Regions from separate parts of the Homo sapiens genome. Here region 2 is reported to be linked to region 1. The links are microRNA targets in miRTarBase. Many come from high-throughput screens and were not tested one by one. Region 1 holds a microRNA gene; the other region holds the end of a gene's coding sequence.

What was found. Region 1 holds the annotated microRNA hsa-miR-4686 (UAUCUGCUGGGCUUUCUGGUGUU, at 1,860-1,882, shown strand). A microRNA usually pairs through its seed, bases 2 to 8, with sites in the 3' UTR of a target mRNA and lowers its output. Matches are read on the target gene's strand: a 7mer-m8 pairs with bases 2 to 8, a 7mer-A1 pairs with bases 2 to 7 and ends in A, and an 8mer does both.
Region 2: the mRNA of MYCN is a reported target of hsa-miR-4686. Seed matches in the 3' UTR shown: 7mer-m8 at 855-861.

What each region holds. Positions count from the first base shown.
Region 1 is chr11:2,171,213-2,176,580 of GRCh38, forward strand. It overlaps MIR4686 (microRNA 4686), which reads left to right and starts at 1,851; the gene lies at 1,851-1,926. It overlaps TH (tyrosine hydroxylase), which reads right to left and starts at 603. Exons shown (of 13, transcript NM_000360.4): 1 at 485-603. The coding sequence starts at 574.
Region 2 is chr2:15,945,592-15,950,949 of GRCh38, forward strand. MYCN (MYCN proto-oncogene, bHLH transcription factor) reads left to right here. Exons shown (of 3, transcript NM_005378.6): 3 at 1-1,413. The coding sequence ends at 506. It also overlaps the pseudogene RN7SL104P. Among named protein-coding and RNA genes, the nearest start is that of MYCNOS, 6.6 kb to the left of the region's middle.

The DNA.
Region 1 (5,368 bases):
CTGCTGCTAGAGCCTGGGAAGGGCCTTGGGGCTGCCTCCCCAAGCAGGCAGGCTGGTTGGGGTGCTGACTAGGGCAGCTGGGGCAGAGGGAGGCAGGGGCAGGTGGGAGTAGGGTGGGGGCTGGGTGCAGCAGCCGGGGACCTCTGGCCATCTTGGATTTTTTGGATGGATTTGTTTCCACATTCCGATCGTTAAGATTCAAGATGAAACAAGACACAGAGACCCACACGACCCCCGAGAGAGGTCGGCCTAAGAGGGGCACACACAGGGACAGGCATCACCTCACCCTCCCCCAACAGGGACTCAAACACCAGGCACAGGGGATGCCGCTGTGCCCAGGCCTCCACATCCACGCCGCGTCCCAGGGGTTTGCATGGACCCTGAGCCTGGGGCTGCCAGCCAGGCTGGGGAGTAGCAGAGGCAGCTGGCACCAGCCCTGGGCTCCGGTCCACTGCGGCCGCCGGGCACCTACCTGCCCTCTTACCATGATGGCCTCTGCCTGCTTGGCGTCCAGCTCAGACACGGCCCTGCGGAAGCCCTTGGCCTGTGGCGTGGTGGCGTCGGGGGTGGGCATGGCTCAGTGTGGAGGTCCGGGCTCCGTCTCCACAGCCCTGGCCCAGCAGCCTCTTATAAGCTGAGCTGACGTCAAAGCCCCCTCTGGGTCCCCCACCTTCCCCTCCTTACATCCCCCACCCCTGCCTGCTGTGCCTGATGGAGGCGGGGGTGGGTGAGGAAGGAGGGAGGCGCAGGAGAAAGGGCTCGTCCGTGGAATCTAATTGCCTTCACTCCCCAGCCCTGTCTGAATCATCCTCAGCCCGCGGGCTTGCGGGGACCAGGGGCTCGTGCTCTGCGGGGGGCTGAGACAGCCAGGGTCCCCTTGGCCCCACAGCCCTCAAGAGAGCACACAGGGAGGGGCTTTCTGGCAGCCCAGGGGCACACTTTTAATGAACACCAGAACCTCGTGGCAGACCGACCCAGAAAGCCCCAAGACGGGGAATCCAGCCTCCAGCCTCAGATGTCAGGAGGCAATTTGTTTGCTTCTCCAGAAGATTCCAGGCCGTGTGTCTCATAGACGTGGTTCCTAGGAGTGCCATCTGCCCACAGCCCCCGGGCCCTGCAGGTGTGGCCCTTGCAGCGGCTTCCCAAGCTCGCCCCGTGGGGTCCAGAATGTCCCAGGAGGGCCCACCTGTCCAGTGTGGAGGACCCTGGGAGGCTGAAGAAGACATCTCTAAGGAGACGCCACGCGTTTCCAAATGGCTGCCACCTCCTGCATCACAGTCCCCACCAGGGTTGCCAGGGCGACCAGGGCCAGGGACGGCTTCCACCCACCCCACTCAGCCCCTCTATGGCCCACTGCTAGCTCCTGGCTTCCCTCGGGGTCCTGTGGCCCCTTCTTTAAAGAGCACGCACGTCCCTCAGTGCTGAGGGCCCTGATGCCTTCCCCTTGGAGAGACCTTTGCAGTTTCTCCTCTACCCCACCAGGCCCCGGGTTGAGGGTGACCCTGGGGTGACCTGAGAACTCCCTTGAGGACAACCCCAGCCTAGAGCCTCCCCCAAGTTCCATGTCCGCCCCGCAGGCACCCGCATCCAGCCCACGCCCACTGGCACCTCCTGCTCCCAGCCGCTGCCCCACCCAGGGAGAGTGATGCCCCTGCCCAGGGTGGCTTCTGGCCCTTCTGGTGGAAGGGGAGGCCTCCCCATCCCTCTGGGGTCAGCAGAGATGGCCAGAGCCTGCCTTGACAATGCTGGACTGTACAGAGGGAAGGACGTGGCCCCAGAGTGCATGGCCTGCGGCTGAACGCTGCCACCGCTGTCCCTCCTGGAGAAGAACCGTTTCCGACAGGGCTTGGGGCTTCCTGTATCTGCTGGGCTTTCTGGTGTTGGCAGCCCAAGATGACACCCTGGGCCCAGCAGGAGCCAGAAGCCCTAGACGCTCCCTGACTTCTCGAAGGCCTACCCCGGCTGGTCACTGTGGCAGCCAGAGCTGGCATCTCTCAGGGCCCACTCTGCTCCTGTCAGCTGTGGGACTCCCCGCTCCCCGTTCTCTCTTCAACAATAGCCCCTGGGACCTTTCCTAAAACTGCTTCAGCCATGGCATCCCTGTCCCACACCCCTCCGTGGCTCCTCGCTGCCCTCTGCAGGCAGGCTGAGTGCTCAGTCAAAGCAAAGGGAAGACCCCCCAACCCTTCCCACTTCCTGGCCCAGAAGGATTTGGGGCTCCGTGATCCCCGGTTTGCAGTGTCATTCCTCACCCACCTCTTATCCGGGTGAACTCCTATGCATCCCACAAAACCCAGTTCCGTCGCTGCTCACTCTGCAATGCCTGCCCTTTCTTGCCACGATATTAATGCCCCTCCCTTGCGCTCCTCTGGAACATCCCTGGGGGCAGGGAAGCCTACCGCTCGGCCCCTGCTGTCTCTCAGCACCCAGTGCAGACCCTGTCCTCTCTCGGAGATGCTATGCCCCTCCACAGTGTTCCCCAAAGGCCTCCACCTCCTGTGGGTCCTGCCCACAGTAGGTCTGGGTGCCTGCTCAGAAGGGCGTTGGAGGGATTTGCCTCCAAGACCTCAGCCTGAAGGCTCAGCCTCTGGCCTCGCCCTGCGGCCCGTGAGCTTCTGTCACCCAGGGCTGAGGCCCACCCACCTGAGTCCCTGGTGATGGCCCTTGGGTGGCCCAGCCTCCATGCCCAGTGTCCAGGCCTGGTGAAGCTCTGCATGGCTCCCCCGAGCTCCCCTCAAGGTCCCCAGAAAGAGTCTCATTTGCCTCCCCCAGGGTCGGCTGCTGAGGATCCCTCGGTGAGGCAGCTCCAGGCCCCCCAGCACCCCGCCCCAGCTCTGCCCAGGGCGGCCCCAGTGCTCAGGTGCCCAGGCCAGGAGGAGAGACATGCCTGATGAACACCACGCCGGAGGCTCATGGCCCACACTGCCGGATGTGGATTTAACCTTTCAGCAAATGTCTTCCACTGATACAAATATTGCTTTTTAATTCGGTTTCCTGCCGGGCCAGTTGTGCTTTCATGGAAGCCCGATGGGAACTAAGCTTACTAGACTCTTCCTTGGGGCCAGGCTCTCTGGAGGCAGGAGCCCAGGCCAGGTGCTGAGGCTGGGGAGGCCCCTGGACCCCTGTGGAGGTGAGTGCTGCCCTCAGGTGCCTGCACCTGCCCTGCCTCCAGCCTCCCGCCCCAATCAGGCAGCATCCATCCCTGCCTATCCATTCCTGGGAAGCCTGTCCCACACGCCAGCCCCTTCAGGGCCGGGGAACCATGCTGTACCCCAGATCCAAGGCCCCTGTTGGCACAGAGGTGCCCCCGACTCCAGTCCTGGCCCTGGCCCCGCCCTCCTTTGTGCCGTGCCCCTCTCCGATTCCAGATGGTGAGGGTATCCATGGAGGCCCCAAAAGTCTACCCTGGCCAGCCTCCCCGCTCCCAGCCCGAGGGTACCTCTCCAGTCTGGACCACCCATGATTGAGCCATGCCCCGTGTCACCCACCTGCCTCTGGCCCTCTCCAGAGATGTCCACAAACACCAGGAAGGCTCCACTCCAGCGCCCACGGGACGAGGCCTCTCCACGCTGGGCACAGGCCTGGAGGGAGCACACGGCTGGCCCCTGGTCTTGGTAGAGCTCAGTGCTGGGTCAGCCTGCGGCATCCACGTTCGGGCAGCTGAGGTGTTCACAGACCCATTCTGCAGATGCGAGGACTGAGGTTCTGAGGTGCAACTTCTCAGGGGTCATGCAGTGAGTCTCCAGCCCAGGTTTCCCAACTCCCAAGACACTGGTCTTTCCTTTTTTTCTTTTTTTTTGAGACCGAGTCTCGCTCTGTCACCCAGGCTGGAGTGCAATGGCGCGATCTCGGCTCACTGCAAGCTCCGCCTCCCCGGTTCACGCCATTCTCCTGCCTCAGCCTCCCAAGTAGCTGGGACTACAGGCGCCCACCACCACGCCCAGCTAACTTTTTGTATTTTTAGTGGAGACGGGGTTTCACTGTGTTAGCCAGGATGGTCTCGATCTCCTGACTTCGTGATCCGCCCACCTCGGCCTCCCAAAGTGCTGGGATTACAGGCGTGAGCCACTGCGCCCGGCCTGACACTGGTCTTTCAAAGATCCGGTGGCATCCATCCCCTGGCACTGTGGGGCTCAGGAACCTAGGCCACAGGGAACAAATCAGACAGGCTGCTGTGACCAGCGTCCCATCTACAGAGACCCCAGAGGGAAGGGCAGAGCTGGGACAGGGTTCTCTGGAGGCCGAGGTCACGCCCCAAGAGACCCCTGGGGCCAGCATACTGGCCCCTGGGAAGGAGAAGGGCTGGAGCGGAGCCCCACCAGGGGGGGCTATGAGGTGGGGCCAGGAGTGAGGGCCGACCCAGGCCAGATCAGAGACAAAACAGGTGACCAGGGGAGTGGGGGCCCCGCAGAGGTCTGAGGAGCCCTTGCTGTCCCCTCCATTGCACCAGGCTCCACCTTCCTGCACGGAGCCCTCTGGGCTTCCCTCCATACCCCACCACCCTCCACCACTTCCGCCGTCCCTGTGGTTACAGCCCCTGCCACCATGGCCGTAAGGAATGCTGAGCCAGCTCCACAATGGAGCGTGTTCTCTCTCAACAGCCTCTCAGCCCGAGGCTTAATCACCCAGATTAATCACCCAGCACGTCTGTGCCCTGGGACTGGTGCCCACTCCCCGCGTGGGGCAGGGTCAGAGTGCTGACTTCGACCTGGCTGTGAGGCTGCTCCGCCCACAGGGCGAGTCTCTGAGGCCACCAGGCCTGCTCCCCAGCACCAGCCTTGCCCACCACGGGCCCTTCCCAAATCCAGGCCTGCTGGAGGAGCCCAGCCATGTGCTGGGGAGGAGCCCAGGAGGTGTTCTGGGTCCCCTGGCTGACAGGCATCGCCCTGTGGCTCTGCAGGGTCTAGCCATGGCCTGGCTGTGGTGTGCACAGGGCTCAGGTGGCCCTGTGATCTTTGAGAGCCAGCATGGTGTCCTCTTGCAAGTGCCTAGGCAAATGCAGGCATCTGTGTGAGGCACACACACATGCACACATGGGGCACACAAGCACACACACAACACTCCATGCACGTGTGAGCACCCATGACACAGGTACACACCACAGGTACAAGCAGCATCCACACACTGCACATGCAAGCACACTCACACATGACGTGTACATAGCACACATACAGGCACACTCAGACATAACACATGTGTGCACCACACACATGCACACACAGATGCATATGACACATGCATGCATATATGTACAAGCACACTTACATGGCACCTGTACACACCACACATACAAGTGTACTCATGTACACGATACACATACGATGCACTCGTAATGACCCACGGACACACCAGATGCACACACGGATGT
Region 2 (5,358 bases), not on the chromosome of region 1:
TCACCATCACTGTGCGTCCCAAGAACGCAGCCCTGGGTCCCGGGAGGGCTCAGTCCAGCGAGCTGATCCTCAAACGATGCCTTCCCATCCACCAGCAGCACAACTATGCCGCCCCCTCTCCCTACGTGGAGAGTGAGGATGCACCCCCACAGAAGAAGATAAAGAGCGAGGCGTCCCCACGTCCGCTCAAGAGTGTCATCCCCCCAAAGGCTAAGAGCTTGAGCCCCCGAAACTCTGACTCGGAGGACAGTGAGCGTCGCAGAAACCACAACATCCTGGAGCGCCAGCGCCGCAACGACCTTCGGTCCAGCTTTCTCACGCTCAGGGACCACGTGCCGGAGTTGGTAAAGAATGAGAAGGCCGCCAAGGTGGTCATTTTGAAAAAGGCCACTGAGTATGTCCACTCCCTCCAGGCCGAGGAGCACCAGCTTTTGCTGGAAAAGGAAAAATTGCAGGCAAGACAGCAGCAGTTGCTAAAGAAAATTGAACACGCTCGGACTTGCTAGACGCTTCTCAAAACTGGACAGTCACTGCCACTTTGCACATTTTGATTTTTTTTTTAAACAAACATTGTGTTGACATTAAGAATGTTGGTTTACTTTCAAATCGGTCCCCTGTCGAGTTCGGCTCTGGGTGGGCAGTAGGACCACCAGTGTGGGGTTCTGCTGGGACCTTGGAGAGCCTGCATCCCAGGATGCTGGGTGGCCCTGCAGCCTCCTCCACCTCACCTCCATGACAGCGCTAAACGTTGGTGACGGTTGGGAGCCTCTGGGGCTGTTGAAGTCACCTTGTGTGTTCCAAGTTTCCAAACAACAGAAAGTCATTCCTTCTTTTTAAAATGGTGCTTAAGTTCCAGCAGATGCCACATAAGGGGTTTGCCATTTGATACCCCTGGGGAACATTTCTGTAAATACCATTGACACATCCGCCTTTTGTATACATCCTGGGTAATGAGAGGTGGCTTTTGCGGCCAGTATTAGACTGGAAGTTCATACCTAAGTACTGTAATAATACCTCAATGTTTGAGGAGCATGTTTTGTATACAAATATATTGTTAATCTCTGTTATGTACTGTACTAATTCTTACACTGCCTGTATACTTTAGTATGACGCTGATACATAACTAAATTTGATACTTATATTTTCGTATGAAAATGAGTTGTGAAAGTTTTGAGTAGATATTACTTTATCACTTTTTGAACTAAGAAACTTTTGTAAAGAAATTTACTATATATATATGCCTTTTTCCTAGCCTGTTTCTTCCTGTTAATGTATTTGTTCATGTTTGGTGCATAGAACTGGGTAAATGCAAAGTTCTGTGTTTAATTTCTTCAAAATGTATATATTTAGTGCTGCATCTTATAGCACTTTGAAATACCTCATGTTTATGAAAATAAATAGCTTAAAATTAAATGATGCAACTCAACCTTTTCCTTAATGGCATTACACTCTGTCCCTTAAGGAGCAACCATAAATAATCCATAACCTATAGAGGGAATTTGGTTTCCGTAAATAGCCCTTTTTGCACCTGTACAATCCTGGTTGGGGGGCATGAGTCATTGTCCCCACTTAAGGTGGAGGGAACTGAGTTTGGGGAAATTAAGGCAGTTCTCCAAGATTATGCAGAATAGAGATGTTATTAGCGACTATTGTGTGCATTGTAGCAATGGCATTTGATAATTTACAGAGCACTTCTGTATACTGTGGCTCCTTAGTGGAATTAAGCTGAGACCTCAGATCAGTCCCTTTAAAAGAAAAGTAAAAATAGCCACAGGGTTGTTTAACTCGCTTGTATTGGGCTTTGGTAGTATTCGTCCCATTGGCAGACAGTCTTCTATTTTAAGGTAGAGCATAGTTTGTCTCCAAGAATTCATTGTTAAAAACATTCACTAGGATCTGTGGAGGTTCTAGGCTAAGCAGAGTAAGCAGAATAAACAGATGGAAATGGGTTCCTCCCTTCAATGAACTCAACCTGATTCACCAAAGTGTAATTCACGAGTGACAGTTACGTAGTCCAGAGCAAGTACCAGGTGCAGGAGAGACCCTGGGGTCACAATGGAGACCCCATATGGGTGGCATGGCTCTCTACTTGCCATTCCTATTACACAGCAGTGTCTTGGCTACTTGGGCTGCCCTTTGGAAATGGGATCAATCTTGCAGGCTCCAGAAGACAGAGCCAAGACTTGTGTGTTAAGGAGATAGTTTACCTGTTGGGACATAAGAGCCTTGCTTGTAAGCAGCTTCTCAGAACTAAAAGTGTACAAATAACCTATTTCTCTTTTGAGTGTCAGGTTGTACTCGGTTATTTCTCTAGGGTTTTGTTCATCTCAGATTTTTAACTGTGAGCCGAAAAAAAAGAAAAAGGCCTTTTGCTTCACTGAGAAGAAAGCAGGTCCAGAGATGAGACAGCTTTGCTTGCCTGGACACACAGTTTGTCAGGGGCAGAGATGGGAGACACCAAGCCATGTGTCCTTGTCTGCTTTGGTCATTTTTATTTGTTTCTTTTGAGATGGAGTCTCACTCTGGTGCCCAGGCTAGAGTGCAGTGGTGCAATCTCGGCTCACTGCAACTTCCGCCTCCCGGGTTCAAGCGATTCTCCTGCCTCAGCCTCCTGAGTAGCTGGGACTACAGGTGTGTGCCACCATGCCCGGCTAATTTTTTGCAGTTTTAGTAGAGACCAAGTTTCACCATGTTAGCCAGGATGGTCTCGATCTCCTGACCTTGTGATCCACCTACCTCGACCTCCCAAAGTTCTGGAATTGCAGGCGTGAACCACCATGCCCAGCCGCTTTGGTCATTTTATAAAGGCAAGTAGGAGTTTAGAACTCAGTCCTCCTTATCCTGCTTATCGCACACCCTTGAGATACGAGGTTGGTGATACTACCATGGACATCTTTCTGATGGTCTCGCCATGTAGAAAATAAGATAAAATGCCCTTTAATTCTCCTAGTCCCCATCCCCAGACTAAAAAATAATGCACCCTTTCTTTTTGAATTGTCATTCAAAAAACTTCCGTTCGTTTGCATTTTACAGGCCCCAAATCACTCACGGCCTCTGCCCCTGTGTGTGTGCAAGAGCCAAAAGAAAGTTAAGCAACCTCACATTAATTGTGTACCTAAGATTCTTGAAGCCCAGCTCAGTCATCCCAGTTTCTCTATTTGTGATTACCATAAGGAACCTACCTGAGTGTGTCCAATGAAATGGAATGCTTAACCGTGAAGAAAGAAAACTGTTCATATGAATGAGGCCACTAAACTACAATTCCTACTATGCTCTCTTTTTGCTCGGGCTGCTGGGAAGCTCAGAGCCAAATTCCACCCCCTCTAACATCTCCAGTGGTCATTCTCTTCTAAATGTTTACGGTTTCTTGTTTTCCATTGTTAGGTTAGTCATCTTTTTAATGTATATAATGTAGTATATAACATGAAACGTTTTTGCATTAGGTGGACCACAAATATGCACCTAAAGGATTAAAACTAAAGTGAAAAAATCCCATATTTGCCTTTTCTGACCTAGCTGAGGGAATGTCACCAAATTTAGCTCTGCAATTATCTATAAAGTAATTGCTGTAGTCACAGAAGAATTGAACTAGTTGTTTCAATAACATGAGAAACCATCTCTGCATTCCAAGAGCAGTTTTGAGACTGGGAAAGAGCTCTACATCATTTAGTTCAATAAACGATAGAGCTGAGACGAAGCACAGAGATCATCTCATTGAAATTCATTTCTCAGAATGAGGGTGCGGGATCCCACCTGGAATTAATGGCTTAACCCAGGGAGACTAGAGCCGGTGTCTCCTATGACCCGCCCAGTGCCCTTCCCCATAACATTCACTTTCTCATTGCCCACACTGTAGCCTCCCCACCTCCTGGCCTGCCCGTCCACCTACATCATGCTTCCATATTAACCCTTCTAAACCACCTACTCTTTATGCAAACTTCCAACAGTTCCCTACTATTTACAGAATCGAGTCCCGACTCTCCAGCCCAGCACAGAGGCACTTCTACCCAGTCCCACCAGCTCCATTGCCCATGGCCCTCCATGTGCTGGACTCTGGCTGTTTCTCATCCGTGACTTGTTTCACCACATCCCTCCTTCTAGGTTACCCAGATTCCATTAATTGAAATCCTTCTCAATCTTGCACCCCCAGGTAGGCCTTTCCCAGCCCTTGGCCTCTGTGCACTTATCTTCTAGCTGCCTTATGCACCTCCTGGACCCCCTAAACTGTGGGCTCCCTTAAGGCAGATAGGGCTCTCATTTGCCTCTGATTCTGAGCATCTGCCCTGTGACTGACAGGTGACAGAGCCTTAGCAGATGCCAGCAGTATAGACGGTAACAGAGGAAGGAGCGAGGAGAGGATTTCCATTATGGGTGGGTCTCCCACCAACTCCAGTTCACAAGCTCTCAGGCTAATTCAGATGGGAAAAGACATCCCTTAGACATCAATGAGTGTCTGGTACTGACTATGCTGGCAGTTCTGAAGAAGTGAAGATAAAATGCTCATAGAGGACTGTCTACAAGGAGCCCACAGTCTGCAAGAGAGTTAAAGCCCTGGGGGTTGTATAGAAGGCAAGAAGAGAAACCAAGAGGCACTGGGTTGAGGGGCTGATGAATGAAAGCATATGAGGGGCCTAGTGGCTGAGTTTGGGGCTATCTGAAGGAGGAAGCTGGTCCTCTGCCTGGGTTCACTGAGTCTACGCCTGGCCTGGCTTGTGGCAGCTCAGACACTTGCCTCAGGCCACAGATGGTCTACACTCGTAGTGAAAAAGGTTGCAATGCCTCCCACCCCTGTGTAGCACTGCAGAGCTTCCCAAGTTTTTGTATGCATGAGTCTCAAAAATCCTTGAGGATTTTTGACCAGTTTATCACATTCCCACATTATAAGTGAGGGAATCTGGTCTTCTGAGTTTTAGTTTCATTAATCCCTATGGTGGCTATGTTTTGAAATTCTGATGTGAGTTGTTTTCGAAATCAGAGGTTGTTTGATTTGGAAGAGGCATAGAAGCCAACTAGTTTACTCTCCCATTTCAGGGGAGGCACCTACAGTCTGCTTGTGAGAATTTTATTTTTCCTTTATTTTATTTTTCTTTTTTTTGCAACAGGGTCTTGCCGTGTTGCCTAGCCTGGCGTGGAGTGGCTAATCTCAGGCACAGTGCCACTGCTGATCAGCACAGGAGTTTTGACCTGCTCCATTTCTGACCTGGGCCAGCCAGTTCATACTTCCTTAGGAAACCTGGTGGTCCCCTACTCCCAGGAGTTGCCATATTGATGCTAAACTTAGTGTGGACATCCAGTAGGCATAGGGTGCTACAGCTCAGAACTTCTGGACTCAAGTGATCCTCCTGCATCAGCTTCCTG